Homo sapiens: one gene and its partner. The protein of the gene in region 1 purifies or fractionates together with the protein of each later gene. This does not show direct contact. Each region holds a gene or a part of one and is shown in the gene's direction. Other genes may lie near its edges.

Region 1 (5,488 bases):
TGCACCGTCTAATAATAGCTGTCATTTGTGGTTGAGTGTCAAAACTAGATTAGGCATTGCATGTATGTATTTATTCCTTAGAGCAACCTATGAAATAGACATTATTAGCATCACCCCTTTATCTGAAAGGTAAAATTTAACTGAAAATTTTATGGTCTAAGTCCATAGCCTTTCTCACCATATGCTATCCCCTCCCTACTCACCACCACCTTGTAAGTTTTCTTACCTTAGAATAAGAATGCTTGTTCTGAAGATTTGGGAGGTAGAAAGTGAATCTACATACATGGCAGGAGAAGATAGCTGTTCCATCTGCACTTGGGCTCTTCCTTTTGTTCATTTCCCAGAGCATTTTACACTGTATCATTCAGGAGATGCCCAGGAAAATATCTGGGTCTGTGGTTAAATGAGTTTAGGGAAAAATACCTCATATCTTCATTACTGATTTATGGTAGATTTTTATATTAAAGGCAGAGAAGTCCTGCAGAAGAGAAATGTGTTTTGGCTGTTTTGAACTTAGCATTTCCTGAAATTATTTCACCACAGAATCTTCTCCTTTCCTCCCATCCCCAGTTGATTTGGTTCCTACAGAGCAACATACTGATTCCTTGCTTGGTAAGAGTGGTTGAAGTCAGGTTTCAGGCTCTCTTCTACCAGTAGCTCAAATTCATCAGTGTTAGGGGTCATCTGACTGACTCTTCACCCGATTACAGACTGAGGCCTACTGACATGGAGTCTGTTTTCCCTTTGGGATTGTTTCAAGAGTCTTCTCTCCAGTCGTCAGGACCTGGGGAACAGAACAGATGACTCCACGTGGGAACTTTATCCAGATTCTCTGACTGACTGAAACAGCTAGATAGTTCATTCTTTCTTGACTTTAATGCTGACTTCAAAATAGAAAAGGATATTGCACATATACAGTATCCTTCTACTTGGCAGTTTGTGCAAACTGGTGGAATACCTTTTCCTAAGAGTAGACCAGGCTGGGTGTGTTGGCTTATGCCTGTAATCCCAGCACTCTGGGAGGCTGAGGCAGGTGGATCACTTGAGATCAGGAGTTCAAGACCAGCATAGGCAACATGGTGAAACACCATCTCCACCAAAAACAAAAAATTAGCCGGGAGTGGTGGCATGTGCCTGTAGTCCCCAGGTACTCAGGAGGCCGAGGCAGGAGAATCGCTTGAACCCATGAGAAAGAGGTTGCAGTGAGCCAAGATCATGCCACTGCACTCCAGCCTGGGCAAGAGAGTGAGGCTCCATCTCAAAAAAATAAAAAATAAAAGTAGACCAGATGCACGAGTAGGAGCTTTGTGTGAGTTCTGAGCATGTAGAGCGAGTAGAGGGCAGATGTCCATCTAGGCTCTTGGCAAGCCTGGTTCCCAGCAGGGAGTGGTAAGAGTTCAGAAATGATGTCAGGGCAGTAAGAGACTGTATTTGTACCATCATGCCTTACCTATTCAGACATCCTTCTCTTTCCTTTTCAGTCAGTGGTGCCGAAGACCAAAACGGTATGTAGTTGTTTCTGTTTGGGAATGGGCTTAGGCCCTTTTGTCCTTCCCCTCCTTCAACCCCAATCCCTTTAGTAATCTAAGAATTCTGAGCATTTGAGCCCCCAGAGAGAGGGTGTGTGGGAAACTCACTGAGACCCAGGGGGCCTCTCACCATCTTTAGAAATTCTCTCTGCTCGCTGTGCAGGAAGCAGAGTGGAGCATACGTAGGGGCGGACTGACTGATGTGCATGTCCCTGGGCTACCTGAGCTCATAAGCCAACATTTGTAAAACACTGAAACAGAGGAGGGGTGGCATGTATCACACTCAGCTCATTTTTTAAAATCTTGGTGTTTTCAGTTCTGGTCTGGGTAGGGAGGGTCTCTGTGTACACCTTCTGGGGAATCAGGGTGTTTAGCAGCTTCTGGTACTAACCAAAAAGAAAGGGTGGTGACCTGAGACAGCCCTGTTTGTACAGGGCTGGTAATGGTTAGAGCTACTCTGGAGCTAACACATGTGCTACTCTCTGGGCACAAGCTATATATCTCAGCTCAGCTGCCACTCACTTAAAGACCACCACTGGGCCCTCAGGTACTCCCAGAACACACTGCAGAACTCCTGACCATCTGTGGGGACATTCTAAAATATGCTATGTGTTTTCAAAAGCCTCAAGGGTATATGGTTGTGAACTCCCTTCCAAGAGAGAACGTTCTAAGAGTAGTGTTGGACTAGCCTGCAGCATTTTAAAACTTATTTCAGAAGATTTCCCAAATTTATTTAGTAAAATGGCCTTTTGCTCAGAATGGGCAATTTTATGTCTGATTACTTCTAATCAGACATAAAAAACAGTTGAGCTTTTCTCAATTCCCCAAAACCATTTGGAGTTCTAGACCCACCTCCACCCTCCAACCCCCCAGCATCACCGGTACCAAGATCAGGCTGATCTACTTGGTGCTTCCTTTCTTTTTCTGATTCCCTGGGAGAATGCTGACAACTGAGTTAATGTGTTTGTTGTTACTTCTGAGAGAATGAGTAACTGAAAATTATAAATTATTCCCATTCATCTTAGGTATTTGTATAGTCTCCAAACCTCTGTTAGGACCAACAGCACCTCAAAAGAGGCAAATGGGTTTCACTCCCTTTCACACCCAGCCTACCTCCTAGGGGGAAGTATTTCTTGACTTTTTAATAGTCCAGAAAAGAGAAAGTATAGATGCAATAAGGGAGAATTCCTCTATGGGTTGGCCAACCCCCAGATGGTAGAGGTGACTTCTGTGAGATCAGTTCCTTTTTATGGGTACCTACTTCAGGCTACAATTTAAGACATATTGGAGATGGCTGGGCTTTTGAACATTATTTTTTCTGTTTGGGTCAGCTCTACTAGGATACTGGTCATGCCCACTATATTCTGCTAGTGACACAAGCCAGTTAGCATTTATTGAGAACCCTGTGCACTCAGCAGTTGATACTGTCTGGATAGTTTCTACTCTTAGGGCAGTTAGGCAGAAGGCCATTCTAGAGCAGGAGCTGTGGGGCCAGCCTGCCTGGGTTTGAATCCTGGCTCCTCGACTTAGCAGCTTTGTGCCCTTGGGCAAGCCACTTAACTTTTTTGCCCCAGTTGGCCTCATCTATAAAATGAAAATAACAAGAGGTCCTACTTTATAGTTTTTGTGAGGCTTCAGTGAGTTAACACATGCAAAGCTTTCAGGACCCTGCCTGGCACACGGTAAGCATTCAGTAAATGTGGGATGTTGTCATTCCCTTGGGAAGATGTTCATTCATCAGACATTTAGAGTACCTACCATATAACTGGCATTGGGGGCTTCAAAGATGAATATCTAACCTTGGAGCATGGAATAAATGCTAAGCATATAATTGTAAAAATTGATTGAATATGTTGAATTAAAGAGCTCATAGTCTACTCTGGGAGTAAGTAGGCAAACTCAAAATTTTAATCCAATGTGATAAGCAGTCATGGGGGTATAAAAAAGTTTTGTGGGGGTAGAAAGAGGGAGCAGTAATCTCTGCCAAGTTTCTCCACCAGGAAGTTTCCTCAGGAAACCTGGGAGTAGTTTGTGAGATAGCAGAGGGGTCCCCCATGATCCCTGACTTTATTAAATGGAGGATATGTTTATAGATAAAGCCTTGTGATCCTTAATGAACCATTCATCACAGTTCCATTTCTATCTAAACTTTTCTGAACCAGTTTTATCTTTTTAGCCTGTTCTGCCTCAGGGGATAATGAGTCCCTACGTGCCACTCACACACTCACTATATTACAGCCCCAACAGTCTGAAAATTATTTCTTTTAAGCTTTGAGAACTTTGCCTTAGTTCTCATGTTCTGGGATGTGTCTGATCCACAAGTGCTGTGTACTTTTCAAATCTTTACCTGTTGGAGGGGATGAAGTGTGGATTAAACAAGTAACCAGAGTTGGTTATTGAGGAAATGTTTCCTCGGAGGAGCTCTATTTGAGGGAAGCATGTGCACTGAGACTTTGTTTACAATGTACCTGTTATCTCCCACCTCCCTCCCCCAGTCACCCCTATACACTTAAGACATTCTCCTCACTCCTCTGCCCCTTTTTTTCTGCCCTGTGTGTTTGTACAGGGGGAGCAGTACCATCAGGCTTGGAGGAGAACCTGTGTAAGATCTGCATGGACTCACCCATTGACTGTGTTCTTCTGGAGTGTGGCCACATGGTAACCTGTACCAAGTGTGGCAAGCGCATGAATGAATGTCCCATCTGCCGGCAGTATGTAATCCGAGCTGTGCATGTCTTCCGGTCCTGAGAGCTTGCATCGGTTTCTTCAGTGCCTTACAGGGAAATAGCCTGGGGTGTCTGGGCTCAGGGTTGGCCAGCTTGCAGAGGAGCAAGCTAGTAGAAATATTGCAGGGTTCCCAAAACCAGGTCAAGCAAGATGCCATGTCACCCCTGAGCATGCCTGTCTTCCCAGGGGTGTACCTCTTGGCTGGCAAAGCCCAAGGCCAGTGGGAACTTGTATAAATCACATGGGTATGTTCTTGGTTCAGTGATCTTGGAGTGATGATGGTAACTGATGAACAGAGAACTTTCCAGAACTTGGGTCCTGTCTTCCTCCCTGAACCTAGACAGTTTCACCCCTCCTCCTGTACCCAACCCATCCCCACCCCATATGGGAGATGCTTGCCCATGTGTTTCATCAATCAGAAGTCCTCCTCCCCAGCACATTCGGATTTAAATTTCTGGTCTCTCCGGCTTTCTGTGCTTTAACTATCTTTGCTAAAGTCTCTTGCTACATTGCCTAAATCCATTTGTTTCTTTGGACCAAAAATGTTAGTTTACCAGACCGATAGTGGTCCTTAGGACAGATTTTAGACCAGTAAACTTATCTTTGGTGAGAAATGAAATACAAATGCTATAGAAAAATTTCAAAGTTGTTAAAAGCCACTTCATTAAATGCTGGGATTGGAAGCTGTTGGTCTCCTGACCTGACTCTGGGAGCCAACAAAACATCAGGCTCCCAAACTGCTGGGAAATTTGTTTCTGTCTGCAAGGGATAGTGCGTGCATAATCCCTGCTGCTGCTTCTCTTGGGACCTGATTTGCACCATCCTTAGTTTATGCGGAAAGGGGAAGCAATGGGTGGAGGCAGTGGCCTTCTCCTTAATTTTGGCTTGGCTTCTGATCCTTTTCCCAACTAGAAGTCTTAAGCCACTTTTCGCTGAAAATGAAATCCCTCCCTTATCCATGGTAGTTTTAAATTTGGTTTCATTGAAGAAATAGATTTAGGCAAAGAGCCTGTGCTCTTCTCTGGCCAGACTGCTGTTGAAGTTCCTGGAGAGCAAATGTTAAGACAGAGCACTTAAGAGCTTTCAGGAGGTACTGAATGAGACTGGATTCTGTTGTAAGCCGACAGTTCAAGTCTTTATTTCCCAGGTTGGTGGGGAGTGAGGAGACCCTACTTTCATTCCCTTTCCTAGCCCACTGATTTTTGGGGGCAGGTCAGGGAGAAAGCATTTTT
Region 2 (3,500 bases), on another chromosome or scaffold:
TCGCTATGTTGGCCAGGCTGGTCTCGAACTCCTGACCTCAGGTGATCCGCCTACCTCGGCCTCCCAAAGTGCTGGGATTACAGGCGTGAGCCACTGTGCCCAGCCAATGAGTCTTGAGAGTGACTTACTTTCATTCTGAAATGATTTAGACGGTGGAAGTTCCTTATCCCCTCCCCAGATCCAGCCAGCCAGAGGCCTGCTTTGAAGGGAAAAGAGGTGCTTGAGTCAGGGACCTTTCAAACTCTGTCCTTTAGAGTTTCTTAGCTCTGCAAGCATTCATTTCTTGGGGATATAAAGTGGAGATGATAATAAGGGCAACCATGTCATAGGGTTGTCAGGAAGATGAGCTAATCCCATTCCCAAGCTAATCCAGGAAGCACAGGTACCACTGGGCTGCTACAGAGGGAACCCTTAGTCAGTGGCAGCCTTGAGAAATCCAGTCTGAGGAATAAGACCGGGGGGAGCAGGGCTAGGGAGCAGGACTGATTCCCTGAGGACTTGTCCCAGTTCTGACTGGTGACCTGTGGCTTCCTACCTCTTGGCTCTCGTCTGTAATCTTGCTACTCAAAGCATGGCACATGAACCAGCAGAATTGGCATCATTCAAGAGCTTATCAGAAAGATAGTCTCTTGGTTGGGTGTAGTGACTCATGCCTGTAATCCCAGCACTTTGGGAGACCAAGGCAGACAGATTGTTTCAGTTCAGAGACCAAGCTGGGCAGCATGGCAAAACCCCATCTCTACAAAAAATACAAAAAAAAAAAAAATAGCTGGGCATGGTGGCACATGCCTTTAGTCTCAGCTACTCAGGAGGCTGACGTGGGAGGATCACCTGAGCCTGGGAGTTGGAGGCTTCAGTGAGCTATGATCGTGCCACTGCACTCCAGCCTGTCATCACAGAGTGAGACACTGTCTCAAAAATAACAACAACACAACAACAACAAAAGACAGACGCTCAGCCCCTCCCCAGACCTGCTGAATCAGAATCTGCATTTTGATAAGATCCCCGGTCATCTGTGTGCTGCTAAATTTGGGAAGTACTAGTCTGAGGGGTAACCCCCACACTTACTCTGAGACAAGCATTCTGCCAAGTCTTTTCCATTCATTGTCTCACTGAAACAACCCTCTGACGTAGGGACTCTAATGACCCTCTTTTTCCAGTGAGGAAATTGAGGCTCAAAGAGTTGGTGTGTCTTGGCCAAGGTCACCCATCTAGTGAGGAGCAAAGCCAAGAGGAGAAACTGCGGCCTCTACCCTATTCCTGAAACTCAAAAGATGGTAATACAGGGTGATGAGAGACACTCGCGATTCAAATGGGAGCGTTCTAAGACCTCTTAAACCCAAATTTATAAAAGTAGAATTGTGGTCGGGTGCGGTGGCTCACACCTGTAATCCCAGCACTTTGGGAGGCCTAGGCGGGTGGATCGGCTGAGGTCAGGAGTTCGAGACCAGCCTGACCAATATGGTGAAACCCCCGTCTCTACTAAAAATACAAAAATTAACTGGACGTGGTGGCGTGCGCCTGTACTCCCAGCTACTCAGTAGGCTGAGACAGGAGAATTGCTTGAAGCTGGGGGAATTGCTTGAATCTGGGAGGCAGAGGTTGCAGTGAACTGAGATTGTACCACTGGACTCCAGCCTAGGTGACAGAGCAAGACTCCGTCTCAAAAAAAGGAAAAAAAAAAGTGGAATTGTTTGCTCAGGCTCCCAGGGTTCTCTTGAATAATATTTTAGTTTGAGGGACAATAAATTTAACTTTTGTTAAATTTATTTAGGAGCTTTCTCTTGAGGGCCATTTTTTATGGGGCAAAAGTTGTTTTATTTCAAAAGTTTCAGGCTTAGCTGTGTTGAAGAAGACCAGCTGTTCCAGCCTGGGCAACACAGTGAGACCCTCTCAAAAACAACAACATCAACAAAAAAAGACCAGTCCCACCGGGGTACACATTCTGGGTGGTCACTGGAATGATTTGCCAAGTGACTTTCTCTAGTCTCATAATGCCCACCATTCACATTCCTGTTCCACCAAAACCCATATCATTCGATGTCAGTGACCTTCAGGATAGTCTAGGAAGAACCCAAATAGTGAATTTGCCCTGAGTTTATACTAATGTGTTCCGTGATCCATCCTGCAGAAAACTCCTGGAAGGTGAAGAGTGTCGGATTGGCTTTGGCCCAATTCCTTTCTCGCTTCCAGAAGGACTCCCCAAAATTCCCTCTGTGTCCACTCACATAAAGGTGAAAAGCGAAGAGAAGATCAAAGTGGTGGAGAAGTCTGAGAAAGAAACTGTGATTGTGGAGGAACAGACAGAGGAGACCCAAGTGACTGAAGAAGTGACTGAAGAAGAGGAGAAAGAGGCCAAAGAGGAGGAGGGCAAGGAGGAAGAAGGGGGTGAAGAAGAGGAGGCAGAAGGGGGAGAAGAAGAAACAAAGTCTCCCCCAGCAGAAGAGGCTGCATCCCCAGAGAAGGAAGCCAAGTCACCAGTAAAGGAAGAGGCAAAGTCACCGGCTGAGGCCAAGTCCCCAGAGAAGGAGGAAGCAAAATCCCCAGCCGAAGTCAAGTCCCCTGAGAAGGCCAAGTCTCCAGCAAAGGAAGAGGCAAAGTCACCGCCTGAGGCCAAGTCCCCAGAGAAGGAGGAAGCAAAATCTCCAGCTGAGGTCAAGTCCCCCGAGAAGGCCAAGTCCCCAGCAAAGGAAGAGGCAAAGTCACCGGCTGAGGCCAAGTCTCCAGAGAAGGCCAAGTCCCCAGTGAAGGAAGAAGCAAAGTCACCGGCTGAGGCCAAGTCCCCAGTGAAGGAAGAAGCAAAATCTCCAGCTGAGGTCAAGTCCCCGGAAAAGGCCAAGTCTCCAACGAAGGAGGAAGCAAAGTCCCCTGAGAAGGCCAAGTCCCCAGAGAAGGAAGAGGCCAAGTCCCCTGAGAAGGCCAAGTCCCCAGTGAAGGCAGAAGCAAAGTCCCCTGAGAAGGCCAAGTCCCCAGTGAAGGCAGAAGCAAAGTCCCCTGAGAAGGCCAAGTCCCCAGTGAAGGAAGAAGCAAAGTCCCCTGAGAAGGCCAAGTCCCCAGTGAAGGAAGAAGCAAAGTCCCCTGAGAAGGCCAAGTCCCCAGTGAAGGAAGAAGCAAAGACCCCCGAGAAGGCCAAGTCCCCAGTGAAGGAAGAAGCTAAGTCCCCAGAGAAGGCCAAGTCCCCAGAGAAGGCCAAGACTCTTGATGTGAAGTCTCCAGAAGCCAAGACTCCAGCGAAGGAGGAAGCAAGGTCCCCTGCAGACAAATTCCCTGAAAAGGCCAAAAGCCCTGTCAAGGAGGAGGTCAAGTCCCCAGAGAAGGCGAAATCTCCCCTGAAGGAGGATGCCAAGGCCCCTGAGAAGGAGATCCCAAAAAAGGAAGAGGTGAAGTCCCCAGTGAAGGAGGAGGAGAAGCCCCAGGAGGTGAAAGTCAAAGAGCCCCCAAAGAAGGCAGAGGAAGAGAAAGCCCCTGCCACACCAAAAACAGAGGAGAAGAAGGACAGC

Evidence for each region. The genes of interacting proteins can lie anywhere in the genome.
Region 2: the proteins of RFFL (region 1) and NEFH purify together in Homo sapiens (affinity purification with mass spectrometry, with the first as the bait; one large-scale study listed by BioGRID). This does not show direct contact.

The regions. Positions count from the first base shown.
Region 1 is NC_000017.11:35,010,757-35,016,244, reverse strand, and holds part of RFFL (E3 ubiquitin-protein ligase rififylin), read left to right. Parts: intron 1-1,481; coding exon 1,482-1,505; intron 1,506-4,095; coding exon 4,096-4,277; 3' UTR 4,278-5,488.
Region 2 is NC_000022.11:29,486,718-29,490,217, forward strand, and holds part of NEFH (neurofilament heavy polypeptide), read left to right. Parts: intron 1-2,131; coding exon 2,132-3,500. UniProt on the Homo sapiens protein: Neurofilaments usually contain three intermediate filament proteins: NEFL, NEFM, and NEFH which are involved in the maintenance of neuronal caliber. NEFH has an important function in mature axons that is not subserved by the two smaller NF proteins.